Linked DNA regions of Homo sapiens: region 2 is linked to region 1. The links come from fine-mapping of genetic effects on gene expression. A gene starts in region 1. The other region holds a variant in brackets. All regions are shown on one strand. Distances are from middle to middle.

Region 1 (9,513 bases):
TGGTGGTGGGCGCCTATAGTCCCAACTACTCGGGAGGCTGAAGCAGGAGAATGGCGTGAACCCGGAAGGCGGAGCTTGCAATGAGCCGAGATCATGCCACTGCATTCCAGCCTGGACAACAGGGCGAGACTCCGTGGCAAAAAAAAAAAAAAAAAAAAAAAAAACACACAGAAAAACTTAGACTCCACTTTCTCTTGTGAACGTAAGTACAAAACTACCAAATGAACTAGGAGCAAACCCATCTCAACCATATATAATATGGTATTAATCATTTATCACAACAAAGTTGATTTAATTCCAAAATGCAATGTTCAACATTCAAAAGCCAATCACTGTTAAGTTACCTTATCAACATAAAAAGATAAGAAAAAACACTGCTCAATCAAGAAAGAAAAAAGCAATTGATACAATTCAGTACCTATTCATAAATCTTAAAACCTGTGTAACAGAGAGGAAGCAACATGTGAGTTAAACACTCCCCCAGCTGAGAATAGTGACATAACTTATTTGCAGCCAAAAGATGAAAATTGCAGGCCAGGCGCAGTGGCTCATGCCTCTAATTCCAGCACTTTGGGAGGCAGAGGTGGGCGGATCACAAGGTCTGGAGTTCAAAACCAGCCTGGCCAACATGGTGAAATCTCGTCTCTACTAAAAATACAAATAGAAATGAGTCGGGCGTGGTGTCATGCGCCTGTATTCCTAGCTATTAGGGAGGCTGAGGTAGGAGAATCACTTGAACCATGGAGGCGGACATTATGACAGTGAGCCGAGATTGTGCCACTGCACTCCAGCCTGGCAACAGAGCAAGACTGCGTTTCAAAAAAAAAAAAAAAAAAAAGGATGAAAATTGAATTGCAGTATAATTTTACAACTTTTGAGAAATCTGTGTTTTTCAGCTAAAAAGAGACAAACTCAGCCTTTTGACCTTTCATCTTTCCCTCCTTGGAAGGCAATCCAAGGCCTGGAAAAACAGCAGCCACATTGTGACCACAAGAATAGAAACCAGGCTAAGGAAGTATCAGGAAACTGAAAAGAACCCTGGACTGCCTTCCTCTGCACGTTTTAAGTGACAAAAATGAAATCTATATTTCTTTAAGTCACTGAATCAGATTTATTCTTTCTGTGGCTACATGTAGCCCTAAATGATGTATTAAATACTAAAATAAATACTAAAATACACACTAAAATACTAAAATTTTGGTCTTGACTCCTGATCTCAGGTGATATGCCCATCTCAGCCTACCAATGTGCTGGGATGACAGGCATGAGCCACCACACCCACCTCAAAAGCTTTGTGTTTTAAAATATATTAGACATATCTCTAGTTTAAAAAAAAAAAAAACTTAACAATAATGTAGGAGAATAAGAGAAACTTTTTCCAAAAAAGAGAAATCACTGTGATTATTTTATCTTATTGGAATGTTGGATAATATAATCTGCTTTACTAATCATTAAGCACGCTGTAAATTTTCCATTACAACAGGATTTGTACCTCAACTAAGGTGATAAAGTTTTAAAGTTTAGAAAGTGAGTCCCTCTCCCTCTCCCTCTCCCTCTCCCTCTCCCCACGGTCTCCCTCTCCCTCTCCCCACGGTCTCCCTCTCCCTCTCCCTCTCCCCACGGTCTCCCTCTCCCTCTCTTTCCACGGTCTCCCTCTGATGCTGTGCCGAAGCTGGACTGTACTGCTGCCATCTCGGCTCACTGCAACCTCCCTGCCTGATTCTCCTGCCTCAGCCTGCCGAGTGCCTGCGATTGCAGGCGCGCGCCGCCACGCCTGACTGGTTTTCGTATTTTTTTGGTGGAGACGGGGTTTCGCTGTGTTGGCCGGGCTGGTCTCCAGCTCCTAACCGCGAGTGATCTGCCAGCCTCGGCCTCCCGAGGTGCCGGGATTGCAGACGGAGTCTGGTTCACTCAGCGCTCAATGGTGCCCAGGCTGGAGTGCAGTGGCGTGATCTCGGCTCGCTACAACCTCCACCTCCCAGCCGCCTGCCTTGGCCCCCCAAAGTGCCGAGATTGCAGCCTCTGCCCGGCTGCCACCCCGTCTGGGAAGTGAGGAGCGTCTCTGCCTGGCCGCCCATCGTCTGGGAAGTGAGGAGCGTCTCTGCCTGGCTGCCCATCGTCTGGGATGTGAGGAGCCCCTCTGCCTGGCTGCCCAGTCTGGAAAATGAGGAGCGCCTCTTCCCGGCCGCCATCCCATCTAGGAAGTGAGGAGCGCCTCTGCCCGGCCGCCCATCGTCTGAGATGTGGGGAGCGCCTCTGCCCCGCCACCCCGTCTGGGATGTGAGGAGCGCCTCTACCCGGCCGCGACCCCGCCTGGAAGGTGAGGAGCGTCTCTGCCCGGCCGCCCCGTCTGAGAAGTGAGGAGACCCTCCGCCTGGCAACCGCCCCATCTGAGAAGTGAGGAGCCCCTCCACCCGGCAGCCGCCCCGTCAGAGAAGTGAGGAGCCCCTCCGCCCGGCAGCCACCCCGTCTGGGAAGTGAGGAGCGTCTCCGCCCGGCAGCCACCCCGTCCGGGAGGGAGGTGGGGGTCAACCCCCGCCCGGCCAGCCGCCCCGTCCGGGAGGGAGGTGGGGGGGTCAGCCCCCCGCCTGGCCAGCCGCCCCGTCCGGGAGGTGAGGGGCGCCTCTGCCCGGCCGCCCCTACTGGGAAGTGAGGAGCCCCTCTGCCCGGCCAGCCACCCCGTCCGGGAGGGAGGTGGGGGGGTCAGCCCCCCGCCCAGCCAGTCGCCCCGTCCGGGAGGTGAGGGGCGCCTCTGCCCGGCTGCCCCTACTGGGAAGTGAGGAGCCCCTCTGCCTGGCCGCCACCCCGTCTGGGAGGTGTGCCCAGCAGCTCATTGAGAATGGGCCATGATGACAATGGCGGTTTTGTAGAATAGAAAGGGGGGAAAGGTGGGGAAAAGATTGAGAGGTTGGATGGTTGCCGTGTCTGTGTAGAGGGAGGTAGACATGGGAGACTTCTCATTTTGTTCTGTACTAAGAAAAATTATTCTGCCTTGGGATCCTGTTGATCTGTGACCTTACCCCCAACCCTGTGCTCTCTGAAACATGTGCTGTGTCCACTCAGGGTTAAATGGATTAAGGGCGGTGCAAGATGTGCTTTGTTAAACAGATGTTTGAAGGCAGCATGCTCGTTAAAAGTCATCACCACTCTCTAATCTCAAGTACCCCGGGACACAAACACTGCAGAAGGCCGTAGGGTCCTCTGCCTAGGAAAACCAGAGACCTTTGTTCACTTGTTTATCTGCTGACCTTCCCTCCACTATTGTCCTATGACCCTGCCAAATCCCCCTCTGCGAGAAACACCCAATGATCAATTAAAAAAAACAAAACAAAACAAAACAAAAAAAAACATTATATTATCGACTATACCTTAAATTATAATAAAAAGTTATATATGTAAAAAAAAAAAAAAGTAAGTGAAAGCCAGCCCCGCCCCTCTCCCAGAGTGGGCGGGGACAGCAGTTCCATGGGAGGCTTTCCTTGTGACATCACAGGACCTTCATGACCCGCAGCTGCCTGGCCCCGCCTCCTTTCCCTTTCATCTTTCTCATTGACCAATGGGCTTGGAGCATTAAGGCCACGCCCCTTTTCCGCATTCTAGTGCAGCCCCGGTGACGCCTCCTGTGGCTCAGTCACATAGCTGTGTGGTACGTGACTGGAGGCATATCACTGTCCTCGCCTGGATCACGCCAATGTGACCCCAACCCCACCACCCTCCCCACCCCATGATGTCCGAAAAAACCCAACAAAGAAAATTGGCTGGGACCAAGAAAAAGGTAAAACGCATCGGATTGCAGCACCCCAACCCCAACCCAGCCCCAGGTCCCCTCTGATGGCAGAACAGCTGCCAGAATCCGTGTCACTCCAGAGGCACGCAGGGCCGGGCCCCCCCCAGTGCCTCTGGGCTCCCCCAACCAAAATCTTGTGTCAGCCCCAACCCCTCAGCAGTCCTGCCCCTGCCCTCACCGGTCACCCCAGGGTGACTTTCAGCCGGTGACTCGTGGGGCTCCCTGCTTTGTACTCTGCCCTCACCTCCTATTGTCCAAAAATGGATCTCCCTGGGCCCTTCGGGCTCACGTTCCCAAGGAACCGGATGCCCCAGCACCTGCCCTCACCAGTCACCCCAGGGTGACTTTGGGCAGGTGACTCCTGGGGCTCCCCACTCCATACTCGGCCCTCACCTACCGCTGCCCCAAGCCTGACTTCCCTGGGCTCTTTGGGCTCACGTCTCCAAGTACCTGGGTCCCAACCCTGTGACCCCATGCCAATCTCAAAGAGGCAACTTGGGCACAGCACTGATGGGATAATGGGTTTGGTTTGGTTTTCTCCCAGGCTTCTACTCTCCAGAGAGACTTTAACAGTTTTTTCTAAGTTCTCCACTTCATATTTGAATTCTCCATGGTTCTGGGACCAGAGTGCCCATCAGTCAGTGATCTTTGAAGTGAGATTTGCTCATCTTCTGTGCAAGAGATCTTGGGAAACTGGACTTGACAACTTGAATCTTCCTCATCTCATCTCAACCTGGGGTACTTTGAGTGCCACAGGATACATATGGGGCATCTTTCTGAAGCATCAGTTTTCCTTGATTCTCGTGGGAGACACAAAACATTAATGTTCTTAGGGATGATAGTCACATAGATTTCAAAGAGTATACAAGACTTCTCTCTGAAATGCAGCTTGGGTTGTCCTCTTTCTGTTTAATTCCCACATTTAACAGAAAGGCTGCCTTCTGCCCTGAGGATACATGACTCTAAGAGGATGTACGACTGTAAACCACACAGTGTACACCTTCCTGCCTACTTTTTACTTTTCTACCTCTGCCTCTGGTTTTGGTCTCTGGCAGCTGCTGATTTGTGGCAACACCCCAGAGCTCAGAGTCAGAAGACTGAGTTTCAGTTCCATTATTGCCTTTCTTTTAGCCATGGTATCAATCCCTCTCAGTCACTAAGTGATTGCGACAACACCTCGTACAGTCGTTGGTGGCATTAAGTCAGATCGTCTATGAGAGTATTTTGTATAAACTGTAAAGTGACTGTAGGAGCTTGTAGTTCTCATGAGTATCACTGCTCCTCTTTTCCACAGTTTACAGACTATCATCAGTGGAACAGTGCTGGTGTTGGTACCGGAGCAACCGACACCAAAAAGAAGAAAATAAATCATGGCGCTAACCCTGAGACAACCACTTCGGGGGGCTGCCACTCGCCTGAGGATGTGAGTCTTGGCTGGCCGGTCTCCTGAGGACAAGGGGCACAAGGGGGAGGTCGAGGGTAACTGTTAAGATTGTGGAAGGAAGAACTGCTGGGTACTGGCTAAGAATTCTGGGTTTGAGTCCTACTTCTCTCTCCAACTGCGAGGGACACGGTTTAGGGAAAATTGCTCGAGCTCTTTGGGCCTCTCTTTTCACATCTGTAAAATGGGGATGGTAATGTTTTACTTACATGTGTGAAGCTTAAATCAGATTTGTTGCTGTTGTTTTTGTGTTAATCCCTAGTCCAGGGCCTGCTGTAAGCTCCCCTCCTCTTTGGGCTTCCGTTTCCTGAGGAGGTAGAGTTAGAGTATCAGAGGTTCTGTTTGCTCTGAGAGTCTGAGATTTAAAGATTCACTAGAATGGAAACCTTGGGGCCAAGGGCTCCTGTCTGCCTTTTCCGTCCTATATCCCAGCAGTGAAGAACCGTCCCCGGCCCCTATGTGCTTGCTCAATGCTTGTTGAATGAACACATCTTTCTCCATCACAAGCTGGCAGAAGGGTGGGCTTTTCTCACACTCTTATGTCGGAAGGTTTATGTTACTGTCTTTTCCAGAGAATCTAGTTTCAGACTTTCAGTTCTGTGGCTGTGGGCAAAAGCCAACAAAGACCCAAATCCTTTTTCTTTGGGCGTTAAGGAAAGTTGACCAGTTTGTGTTCCCATTGGGTCTGAGAACTTTGCCCTTAAAATCCATTCCTGACCCCTGCCTACCGCTTCCTGGCCTGGGGAATAGAGTCGAGGGACCACCCTCAGTCACCTTCCTTTGACTCTCCCCACAGAAACAACAGAACCGAGCTCAGCTGAAAGAGGTAACATGGTTTCTTTCTTTGCTCACGACATGACCGCTGGGTTTGGGGGGCACTCAGATGTAGAGGCCCCAGTCTCGTCTCGCCTACTCCCAGCTTGGGGAGGAAGGCTCACCTCCCAGCTTCCACCCCATCCCCACAGGGTCCCTGATAACCTGGTCCCATGGGTGGGCCTGTCCTGGGACAGTGGGGCCATTCTGGGGGCATGTCTCTTGCTGTGCCATCTCTGCCTCCCTCTAGTAAGAGCTCTGTCTTCCTCTTCTTTTCTATAGGAAAATAAGGCAAGCCACCAACATCAGCAAGCCCTAAGGAGGCAGCTAGAGGTGAGTGGAGGGTGTGAAGTTCCCTCCTGTCCTCTGGAGAAGGTTTCTTTGCTTCTCTTTCAGCACTTGCTTTTCTTGTCTCCCAAAGGCCCAGGATCATACCATACGAATCCTTATGTGTCAGAAAACTGAACTGGAGACAGCGCTCCATGACAGCCAGGATGCTGCCAGGAAATTTGAAGGTGGGAATCTGGGCACCCCGTCATCCTTCAACCTGGCACTTTCACAGGCCTTTGGGCTGCAGCTCAACCTCTCTCATTCCAGAAGATTCCAAGGATCTGGCAGCCCGCCTGCATCATTCCTGGCACTTTGCAGGAGAGTTACAGCGGGCTCTCTCTGCTATGTCCGCAGAGCACGAGAGGGCGGACAAGGTGAGTCCAACCACCTACCCGGTCCCCTGGGAGCCCAGCTTCGCAGATGGAGGAATGAGCCTAAAGGTCCCTTCTGCAGGATGCAGTGTCCTGCCCAGAAGACAGCATGGGCCATTTCTTGCTGCTTTTGTGCGTGGTTGTTAGAGGCAGGTTGGGGCTGAGTCAGCTGCTGTGGGTGAGTTGCGGGGCGCTGTGGGGAGCGAGCACTGGACACAGAGCTCGGAGGCCAAGTGCCCACCCCACCCATACTTGGCTGTGGCCTTGGTCAAATCCTAGGCGGAGTTGAGGGTACTTGTACCATGAAGGTACAGAAGAGTATCTTTAGTATGTTACCATTTGTGTAGAGAGAGGGAACACATGTACGTGTGTGTGTGTGTGTGTGTGTGTGTGTGTGTGTGTGTGTACGTACGTATTATGGTAATATACATAAAACATGTTTGTAAGGATTCATAAAAAACTCAGGAGAGAGGAACAGTGTTGGGGGAAGATATTTCCCTTCTGTACCTTCTGAGGTTTGGACTATGCCAATGTATCATTCTTTCAAAAATCAACAAAGGATTAATTTCCTCCTCCTTATCTGTGCCCCTACCCCCAACCAAAAGAATGGGCTTAGAGAATCAGATATACCTGGGTGTTGAAATCCCAGCTCTAAGTGATCTTAGGCAAGCACTTAACCTTTAATACCCCATGTTTTTCATCTACACAATAGAGGTGATAATGATAACTGTCTCCTGTGGTGGCTGTGAGGATTAAATGGGATTGTTAGCATAGTGCCTGGTGAAGCACTCAAGAAAGGTTCCAACAGTGGTAATAATAACAGTAATAGCAATAACAATATTATCTGATCGCTCTGGGCCCCTGTTAGCCAGCTATCAATTCAGTCTCTTTCTCTGTGCCTTCCACCCTTACTGAGTTCTCCGAAAAACAAGTGAGAGCCAGGTGCAGTGGCACATGCCTGTAATCCCAGCTACTTAGGAGGCTGAGGCAGAAGAATCGCTTGAAGCCGGGAGGCGGAGGTTGCGGTGGGGTGAGATCGCGCCATTGCACTCCAGCCTGGGCAACAAGAGCGAAACTCCATCTCAAAAAAAAAAAAAAAAAGAAAAGAAAAACAAATGACACCACGGGTTTGGAAACGCCTTGAGAACATGTCGGGTGTGACGGAGAGGAGCAAGTGTTACTGTGGAGTATCAGTGTAGCTGTCGTTACTGGTCGTCCAGCTGCTCCTCTGCCTGCTGTATCCTGACTTGACCTTTCTCTGTTTGCAGTACATCAAGGAGTTAACAAAGGAGAGGGAAGCCATGAGTCTGGAGCTGTTCAGGAACATGTAGGATAGGGGAGGGGGGGATGGGAGGTCTGAGAGCCCTTAGCGTGGGTGGTGTGCTGGGAGGTGGGGGGTACAGGTGAGCATGGTAGGGGGTCATACAGGTTTACATGTGTGTGCAGGGAAGCTCCAGTGCCGGCTGTGCCACTGACTCATGGGGTAGCCTCAGGCAACTCATGTCTTCTCTCTGGCCTGCCACCTGGGACTTTTAATTCCTGGGGTCCCTTCCAGTGCCACGGTTCTGTGGTTGTGGGGCGAGGGTAGAGGGTCGATCACCAAAGCGGTCCTTTCTGTTCTTCGTTCATTCCTTTCTCTACTGCCTCCGGCCATAGCATAACCAATAAGGAGCTGAAGGAGAAAAATGCCGAACTACAAGAAAAACTTCGACTGGTAGAAACTGAAAAGTCTGAGATCCAGCTCCACATCAAGGAGCTAAAAAGGAAACTGGAGACGGACAAAATCCCGCTGCCACAGGTGAGCGGCGGCAGCCCCGGGGGTGTGGGAGCCGCATCCGGCTGGGACATGGTCTAGGGATCATGCAGGGTGTGGGGAGGCTCCAGCCAAGAGCTGGAAAATTTGGGTCCTTGTTCTGGTCCCACCACAGAATCCTCTAGAGTGTGCTAAAAATCTACAAATTGGGACCATGCCTGGGAAATCAGAACCTCAGGGTTACGGCTTAAAATTTCTTTTTAAAGAATCATAGACGAAAACCGTTATTTTATAGATTACATTTATATACCTAGCTTATGACTCTATTTCCTTTTGAGGTTCAAACCAACACTTTGCAGGAGAAGATGTGGAGGCAGGAGGAGGAGCTACGGGATCAGGAGGAGCTACGGGATCAGGAGAAGCTACGGAAGCACGAGGAGAAGATGTGGAGACAGGAGCAGAGGCTGCGGGACCAGGAGAAGGAGCTGCGGGAGCAGGAGCAGCAGATGCAGGAGCAGGAGGAGCAGATGCGGAAGCAGGAGGAGCAGATGCGGAAGCAGGAGGAGCAGATGCGGAAGCAGGAGGAGCAGATGCGGAAGCAGGAGGAGCAGATGCGGAAGCAGGAGGAGCAGATGCGGAAGCAGGAGGAGCAGATGGGGAAGCAGGAGGAGCAGATGGGGGAGCAGGAGGAGCAGATGCGGAAGCAGGAGAAGCAGATGCTGAAGCAGAAGGAGCAGATGCGGAAGCAGGAGGAGCAGATGTGGAAGCAGGAGGAGCAGATAGGGGAGCAGGAGGAGCAGATGCGGAAGCAGGAGGAGCAGATGTGGAAGCAGGAGGAGCAGATAGGGGAGCAGGAGGAGCAGATGCGAAAGCAGGAGGAGCAGATGTGGAAGCAGGAGGAGCAGATGGGGGAGCAGATGAGGAAGCAGGAGGAGCAGATGGGGGAGCAGGAGGAGCAGATCCGGAAGCAGGAGGAGCAGATGGGGGAGCAGGAGGAGCAGATGCGGAAGCAGGAGGA
Region 2 (9,513 bases), 57 kb after region 1:
TCATTTTTTAAATCAAAAAGTATATCCCAAAGTCTAAAGAGAAGAGAACAATGACTGTTTGCATCTGTTCAATAATCCAGACATGACTTAACTGAATAGACTGACCAAAACTAAGATAAGTATTTATTCTCAAATTAAACATAATGCATTATTAATAAGGCTCTCCAGAATTTTTCTCAGCACTTTTCAGTATTCTGAAAGGACTCAATACTGCTACTTATATTTTTCTAAGTACAAAAATATTAGAATCCAATCTTCTTACGTCTTTCCATTGACCCAAGCTATTACAATACTTCCCCAACTGAAGTCCATCTGAAAACCTATCCTGTTTTAAGGTAATGAATCACAATTATTCAAGGTGAGAGAAACTGCAGGGGGCAGTATAAGCATGATTTCCAACATAATTCTTAAGATTTAGGAAAATTCTTCCTGTTAGTGTAAGCTTAACCTTAAACTATTAACATGTATTTCAATCAAAGAGTCCATAGAAAAGTTAATTGTTAAAGATAATTGAAATTCTTCCACAAATTTAATAATCAAAAGTTGAGGCCAGGCACAGTGGCTCTCACCTGTAATCGCAGCACTTTGGGAGGCCGAGGTAGGTGGATCACCTGAGCTCAGGAGTTCAAGACCACCCTGGTCAACATGGTGAAACCCCATCTCTACTAAAAAAAAAAAAAAATACAAAAATTAGCTGGGTGTGGTGGTGCATGCCTGTAGTCCCAGCTACATGGGAAGCTGAGGCACAAGAATCACTTCAGCCTGGGAGGCAGAGGTTGCAGTGAGCCAAGATCGCACCACTGCACTCCAGCTTGGGCTACAGAGTGAGAATCCATCTCAAAAATATATATATATATAAAATAAAATAACTAAAAGTTGAGGTGTGGGATGCTCTAAAGTCACTTGGGGAAGAATTCTATGCTACCATTATCCTTATGACTTATTCCAATCAAAAATAATAGAACAAGAAATTTTTTTCCTTTAAATTCATATCCACACTCTTAAAAAAACACAAGTTATCCAAAACTATAAGTCCACTTACTCAGGAGAAACTCATTATTTCAAAATGTATTCTTATCATTTTTAAGTATAAATAAGTAAATCCCTTAAAAGTCAGATTCAACACTAGGGGAAAATAGAATGAAATATTAAACATGATATATAAGTATGACTTAGGAAAATTAAAGTTATTCTAAGATAAAAAGAGAAACTTAATTTTATTCAGTTTTGCATTCATGGTTGCCATTCTAGTATATTCTCCAGCTACTCAATAACCTTCTTTCCCAAACCTATGCTGATTCCATGCAAGTAATTTCCAACTAACAATTGAATTAGTTAAGTTAGATGAAGCCCTCTTTGTGTGTCTGTTTTGAGTAAAGGTAACATTTGGTGGTAAATACATCTATCTTCTTTCTTATGTCATTTTTCTCCTCTGATCCTCAACATATAATTAAACTTTCTTTGATGCTGTAAAACTTGTCATTAATAGTTACCATAAATATTCATCTCATACATACCACTTCCAAAGCACCTCATAACTGTAATAATTGCTAACAGTTATGGGTGCTTACTACGTACCACACACTGTTCTAAGAGACTGTCCTGTATTAGTCATATATGAACTCAGTTAATCTTCACAACTCTGTGAAGTGGGAATTATTATCCTCATAAATAGGGAAACTGAGTCAAGGACAGACTGTGCCACACCCATGGACACATGGCTAATGACTGGTAGAGCTGGCATGAAATGTATCAGTCATATTAGGAGGGCATCACACATCCCCATGTAAGATTCAATAGAACTAGGTGCTCACCATATTCTTTCACCTTCCTTGACTACATTAGGACCAATCTGACATTACCAAGAGAAATTAAAATCTACAAAGCATGATCAAAAGCTCAGGTCCACAATTAAGCATGAGAATATACAGAAAACACGGCTAGGACTTTTGGTAAACACCTGGGCAATTTTCACAAGGAAAGGCATGAAAGGGTGCGTGCCCTGGTATGAGCGCCTGAATACAAGGGCCACAACCCAGTCAACCTGGAAATGTCGCCTTTAACTATCATCTCCTCCCTCAAACTCATCATTGTTTCGTCATCATGTCTTACTTGATTCCCTAAGGAGTATTCTCAACCAGAAAAATATTTTTCACGATAATCCTCTCAACTGATAGATACAAATCTATCTTCTCCAAGTTCGAGCAGCAAGTCAATCTTCTGAAGACCTCAATATCCCCTGCACAAATTCATCAAGGGTCCAAATCAAGAGAACTGAGAGGACCTCACTCTAGAGTATAAAAAATTATGGCAAACGTGAGAGCCTCCCCACTCAATTATTCGATGTCCACAGTAAACTGGGGACAAACCTAACCATAACACTGGGACAAGGCACACTTCACAGCACACAATTTCAGGGTATATATCTAACTGTTAGGTTCGTGAAGAATCTTCCCCTTCTACTTTAGGCACTTCTAGACAGTTGGAATTTATTTTTAAACAACAGAACATACATCACTTTTTGGGGGTTAACTTCAAGGATTTTCCTACTGAAAATGAGAAACTTCAGTATCCAGTCACTAACTTTTGTATTCATGAATCTCACAAAAAAAAAAAAATCAAGAAAAGGAAGGAATTTAACCAACTTTCATATTACTCAGAAAAGTCACCAATGAAAACAACAATATCATAGGCTTCTTCATAACTGTGCTAATATTGGTGGGCAACACTGGTCATATAATTTATGGTTGACTAACTCAACAGTTTCATGTCATTTAAGAACAATAAAGATAAACTCACAAGTATTTTCAATAAAACAGAGAAAAGAAATACCTCAAGTTCCACCAGTGCTGCAGTGACTGCGTCAGTTGCAAGAGCACCCGCCTGCAGCTTTTCAATTGCCTATGAAACCAAGGGGAGAGATTATTCATTGCAAAATCACAACTTCCCAAACTTTCCAAAAGCTTAAAGAAGTATGGGAGACACTTAGATTAATAAAAATTGACCACTAGTTCCATTCCATACTTTAAGACATAAACTACTCAGATTAAAAACAAGCAAGTGTTTATATTCAGGTTAATTGGTAATATGGCTCACTTAATATTATTCAAATTAAAACAATAACATCTAGCTATTAAATGAAAAGTACAAGGAATTTAGTAAGCTTAATTCATTGTAAGGCTATTCAAAATAGCCACAGAAATTGTATGACCCAGTTTGGTTCAAATATCCTGACAATTCGTATTTTATATAGATAACTAAATCTCAAACGAATCATTTCTCCTCCCCGTTAATACTCTCCATACCTAAAAAGAAGTGACTCTGAGTCACAGGGGCGCCGGAATCTGAGGATAAAAGCACACATTTGACAAAAACATTTTGGATACTATAATGTAAATTCTAAATCAAGATGTAACATATTATTTTGTAATATAAACTACACAGAATAAAGGTCTATAAAATCACCTGGCCTTGAGCATAAATTAGGAGAGGAAAAGAGAGAGAAGGAAAAGTCATTTATAAATGATTTATTAACATTTCAATTTAGTCAACAAAGAGAAAGCTCAAAAACTAAGAACTGTATTCCTAATTAAACTTTTAAGAAGTGTATTCATTGGAAATATTAAAGAGGCTAAATATACAATTCAAATGTATTAAATTTCTAAGACTATAGTTACATAAAATTTATTTTCAGATGATAGAAAAATTTCACACTTTGAAAAATAAGAAAAAATATAAAACAGCTTAGAGAACTTTTAGCTTTATTGTTATAAATTTCAAAAGAACAAAATCCCTGTAACAAAATATTCTTATTTATAGGGCTTCATTCATAAGAAAAAGCTTGAATCTCTGATAAAGTATAATCTTTTTAATGTTATGTAAATATCAACGAAAAGAGCAGAGAGAGACGCATATTTACTCGATATACAATATTCAACTAGATCCTATTTGCATAAAAAGTAATGGAAGGTTTGCCTACAAGACTAGTAAGAATCAAAATAAAAAACATTTCTTCTGAGTCCATTCCTGTCCCCACATTAAATATTCAACAGTTTAGCAAAACCTCAAAAACCAATGGGAAAAAAGCACAACTGAGTACAAGGGCAAAGCTGAACTCTGGAATGACAATGAACTTGCTATGATACAAACTACGTGATGAAAAACAGAATGAAAAAGTATAGGACAATCTCTCTTAAAAAAGCACCCATTTTAATTTTTTTATTTATTTTTTTCCCTTCATGGAAAAACACACTGACTGCCTTCAAGCTGTTTTCTCTATCCTTCTGTCTACAGAAGTTCAACATCGTTGCAAAGATTAAAAGAGATATGATTGTGTGCCCACAATTACAAAAATACAGACTTTAATCTGGGACGTGGGGAAAGAGCTAAGCATCATGTGGAGAAAGACACAAAACAACACAAAACGATCCCCTACAAAAACAAGCAAAATAATTTTGTAGTCCAAACCGGAAGACTGCCCTAGAAATGAAACTTTTAAATGTTGAATTTCTTTTTTTTTTTTTTTTTTTTGGAGTTGCATACATTTTTTTAATCCAAAGAAGTCAGCCTCCTAAGTATTGCTTAAACAGGTTTATCAGAATTAAGTAGGCACGACACTCATACTTTCAGAAAAGCATTTGCAGCCAGGGGAGTAACGTGGCACTCACCAGCATGATATCTGTTTTGCCAACTTGCTGAGGAACGAGTAACCTGAAATGAAGAAGCGAGAATCTCATCCTCAGCCCCCCAACAGCTTCCTCAGCTTCTTTTTATTCTGAGTCACTCCCTGAAACAGTCGCTGCATCTAAGACCAGCCTCGGGCTAAACCCAGCTGGCCTGAAGGCTCAACTCACATCAAACAGAGCTGGGAGTTGCTTTTGCGTGTGTCCGCAGTTTGAAGTGTCCTCTCCGAAGGTGAAGTGGAGGAAGCAGGTGCGCTCTGGGATGAAGTGCAGGGAGGCAAACTCTGGCTGGGTTCCTGTAAACATCCATGGCAGTTGCAAATAATGAGAAGCCGAGGCCAGGCCATCGGTGTGACGCTGCAGGCAGATGAGGTCTTGGGACGCCCC[T/CT]TGCGTTCCCCCTTCTGTGGGAGCAGGTGCCTTCCCAATCTCAGCACTCAGTCCCAATCTCTCTTCCACTCTCCTGGGTCCAAACAGGAACCTCTCTGTTGGCACGAAGCTTTTGAGGGTAGCAGGCAGGCCTCGGAGGCAGGGGAGGGTCTCCTCCTGGGGAACCATCCCCGTCCAGATGGTGCCCCCAACCAGCTGCTGCGGCGCCATGATCTGGGCGGCTGGTCCAGGGCGTGGGTTGCGGATCGTGGAGGGAAGAGGGGAACGGCAGTCGAGACCCTACTCCAAGTACCCATCAAAGACGTCGAGCTCCGAGTCAGCATCGTAAAGGCCCGAGCCGGGGTCGGAGAGCACGCCGAGGTCCACGAGCGCCTGGTCCATGTCCTCGAACAGGAAGACGAGGCCCACGTTGAGGACGATGTACTCCATGAGGAAGGCGTAGTACAGGATCAGCACATTGACGAAGAACAGGCCCACGTAGAACATAGAGGGCAGCAGCGGCGGCGGCACGTAGGGGACCAGGGGGCCCAGTGCGTCCAGGTGGGCCGCGACCCGGGCGCCGAGCATGCAGCCGGTGGCAAGGGCGGCGGCGGCCCGGCGATCCCGGCGAACTCAGCCGCTGTGGCGCCCGGGCCGCCGGCGAGGGCACAGCGCAGCCATCCAGGGGTACCCTGGAGCCCGACAGAAGCAGGGCCGGGCTCCAGATGTCCCCTGGCAAATGCGCCCCGACCCCCGAAATGCGCCGGGCGGGTCACCGCACCCCGAGATGTGCCCCCAAGGCTCTTTCGACCGCCCTGAAGTGGCGGGCCCCCCTGAAGTGGCCGGCGGCTGCCCGGCTCCCTCGAGGCGCCTCCCTGGCGCTCGCAGGGCCTCGCAGAGCCGGCGGGGATCCCACCGCGGCTCAGTGTCTAGGGCCGGTCCCGGCAGCCCTCTCTCCCGCCCGGCCCCGCAGGTCCTAGCGTCGCCCTCCCCCCCGCGCCCCTGCAGGCCCAGCACCCATGGCTGCGGCCGCGGCGTCGCCCTCCGAGTCGCGCTCAGAGCCACTGCTTTATGTTCAAAACTGAAAAGCATAGATGATACACATTGCGTTGATACTCTCTGACAAGCTCGTTTGCATACATGTTTATATTCCTTGGCTTTGGATTCAGAATGATAAACTGCACCTATAGTAGAAAATAAAATCCAGTTGTTAATTGTTAAAATATCAAGAGACCTTGCTTATGTTATATAAATACTCCAATAAACTGATGCTGTCCTAGTAAAAAACAAAACTATTGCCCTAACTGTATGGAGTTTTATGATTTCTTTCTCCAATGTAAGCCTTTTTAATACCATGCCTTATCTCCGTTTTCAAAAGCTCTTTTCCTGCCAAAAGCCCTAAAAATAGCTCATGTCCCCAGAGGCTTCACCAAGGTCACCTCCCCTCTTCTTTTCAAGAAGCTTTTTCCAAATCAGGAGTTCTTTTGATCTGGAGCTAACAACCCAGAAGGTGTCAGGGACAGGGTCCCTCCAGGTTCCTCTCTGCTGAAAGCCCCTGCCATTTGGGAAGTTACTGTTTCAAATCCAGAATTCATAAGAATAATTCAGAAAGCTGGATTGCTTCTGAACAACATTGGAAGTTGAGGCATCTTACATCTCACATGTCCACAACCACCACCAATTGCACCATTCCTAACCAAACACTTCACGTCCTCTCAATAAAGTTGCTAGATTAGTCTCATTTCTTAAAAAGCTGTTTTTTGACAAAATGGGAGAAAATTTTCGCAACCTACTCATCTCACAAAGGACTAATATCCAGAATCTACAATGAACTCCAACAAATTTACAAGAAAAATACAAGCAACCCCATCAAAAAGTGGGCAAAGGATATGAACAGACACTTCTCAAAAGAAGACATTTATGCAGCCAAAAAGCACATGAAGAAATGCTCATCATCACTGGCCATCAGAGAAATGCAAATCAAAACCACAATGAGATACCATCTCACACCAGTTAGAATGGCGATCATTAAAAAGTCAGGAAACAACAGGTGCTGGAGAGGATGTGGAGAAATAGGAACACTTTTACACTGTTGGTGGGACTGTAAACTAGTTCAACCACTGTGGAAGTCAGTGTGTCTAGATCCTCAGGGATCTAGAACTAGAAATACCATTTGACCCAGCCATCCCATTACTGGGTATATACCCAAAGGACTATAAATCATGCTGCTATAAAGACACATGCACACATATGTTTATTGCGGCATTATTCACAATAGCAAAGACTTGGAACCAACCCAAATGTCTAACAATGATAGACTGGATTAAGAAAAGGTGGCATATATACACCAACGAATGCTATGCAGCCATAAAAAAATGATGAGTTCACGTCCTTTGTAGGGACATGGATGAAACTGGAAACCATCATTCTCAGCAAACTATCGCAAGGACAAAAAAACAAACACCGCATGTTCTCACTCATAGGTGGGAATTGAAGAATGAGAACACATAGACACAGGAAGGGGAACATCACACACCGGGGACTGTTGTGGGGTGGGGGGAGGGGGAGGGATAGCATTAGGAGGTATACCTAATGCTAAATGACAAGTGAATGGGTGCAGCACACCAACATGGCACATGTATACATATGGAACTAACCTGTACTTTGTGCACATCTACCCTAAAACTTAAAGTATAAGAATAATAAAATTTTTTTAAAAAGTTGCTTTTTGGTAGTTTATATGTAACACTGTAGTTCTATATGTACTTGCAAATAGCTATAGTACCAGTAAAAAATGTGATAAAATGAAACTCACATATGCCAAAAATACTTTGATTTAGCGCTTCATTAAGTGCATGATTATCTGCATCTTTTGATTTACCTATCTTTACAATTTTCAGCTGAGATACTTAGAGGTCACATAGTAAATTAAGGTTTTCTTTTTTTAAAATAATCTCCATCTTTCTAAATTTGGTGAGTCCAGTAAGTTATTTTTGAGATGTTGAAATCTGTGGCTTTGTTCTAAACTTGAGCACAGAAATCATGCCACTTACGAAATATGCTTTGTCTTCCAACATCAGAGTGTCTGGTAGAAGGTGACTGTTCTTGGAATTTAAAAAATCTTAACAGGAAAAGACAAGAATCTGGACACTTTTTCTGTTTCTGATAATATGGCTGAGTAGGTAGACATGCTGGCTAGTCCTTGCATAGATCAAGACATACTTGAACTTGCCAAAAAAAATAAAAAATCCAGAGTCTCTAAGAATGAAGATGAAGTGAAAATCAGAAGGGCTATTGAGAGAGTAATGGGGAAGCAGCCCCAGTTATCAAGGGACGTGTGCATGTGTTCATTAAAAAGTTTCAGATGTAAAAAAAGTTGAGAAAAATAATGTAACTGCCCTACATATACACATCATCAACAATTTTTCATTCATGGCATGGACAGTTTTTTGTTTTTGTTGGTTTTTTGTTGTTTGTTTTTAAAGGTGGGATTTTGCTGTGGTCGCCCAGGCTGGAGTGCAGTGTCATGATCTTGGCTCACTGCAAATTCTGCCTCTCAGGTTCAAGCGATTCTCCTGCCTCAGCCTCCCAAGTAGCTGGGATTACAGGCACCCGGCACCACATCCGGCTAACTGTTGTATTTTTAGTAGAGATGATGTTTCACCACGTTGGCCAGGCTGGTCTTGAACTCCTGACCTCAGGTGATCCACCTGCCTCAGTCTCCCAAAGTGCTGGGATTACAGGCGTGAGCCACCACACCTGGCCACAGCCAGTTTTGTTTCATTTATATTCCCACTTCATTTATATGCATTCCTTCTTCCTCTGAATTATTTTGAAGTAAAATCTATACATCATATCATTTTTTAATTACCGTATATGTATCTGCAGAAGACAAGGAATTTTTAAAAATAAATATATTCACAATGCCATTAAATACCAAAAAAATTAATATTCTGAAAATAGCCACAAATCCAGAGTTCACATTTTCTTGACTTTCTCATAGGTGATTTTTCTTCTAGGTTTTCTATTTAATCAGGTAACTGTTTGCTCATATTTACATTCCTTACTGAACAATGTCTAAACTTAAACTGACATAAAACGCACATGATCTTCTGACCAAATGCTTAGTGCAAGAAAAAACTTCAAACTGCAAGACGAGTCCCTCCAAATATAGAAAGGACCAGTATTTTAGGAGGTATGTTAACTAAAATGTGGCAATGTAAGGAGCAAAACAGGAAGAACCTTTAAGTCCTAAACTTACAAGTCAATTTCCTAGTCAGTTTCCATGGTCCTTCCACAACAACCTCTGGCATCTGTATTCTCTACAATGGAGGTAACAATAGTAGCTATTTCAGAGCAGGAAAAGGCTTAGAGCAGTGCTGCAAGAGGGTCGTGGCTATATAAAGTTTAGCTATTTGTATATTGTAACAAACCCCCTTTTTTTTTTTTTTTGTCAATAATAGAT

Alleles and levels. Positions count from the first base shown, and alleles are read on the strand shown. Sizes are in standard deviations (SD) of each study's normalised expression.
As copies of T replace CT in region 2, the expression in adrenal gland of the gene that starts at base 3,630 in region 1 goes up (small effect, 0.29 SD a copy in GTEx).

What was found. PIP is the estimated chance that this variant, and not a neighbour inherited with it, causes the effect.
Region 2: its variant is fine-mapped to the expression of GOLGA6L7 in adrenal gland (GTEx, PIP 0.95).

The regions. Positions count from the first base shown.
Region 1 is chr15:28,842,761-28,852,273 of GRCh38, reverse strand. It overlaps GOLGA6L7 (golgin A6 family like 7), which reads left to right and starts at 3,630. Exons shown (of 9, transcript NM_001365371.2): 1 at 3,630-3,775; 2 at 5,082-5,210; 3 at 6,025-6,054; 4 at 6,324-6,374; 5 at 6,463-6,556; 6 at 6,639-6,745; 7 at 8,011-8,069; 8 at 8,399-8,540; 9 at 8,834-9,513. The coding sequence starts at 3,725. It also overlaps the pseudogene PDCD6IPP2. RefSeq lists a silencer at 3,362-3,496 and an enhancer at 7,248-7,794.
Region 2 is chr15:28,785,322-28,794,834 of GRCh38, reverse strand. It overlaps the pseudogene LOC100289656 and the pseudogene PDCD6IPP2. Among named protein-coding and RNA genes, the nearest start is that of GOLGA6L7, 59 kb to the left of the region's middle. The variant T/CT (reference allele first, on the strand shown) is at 5,070.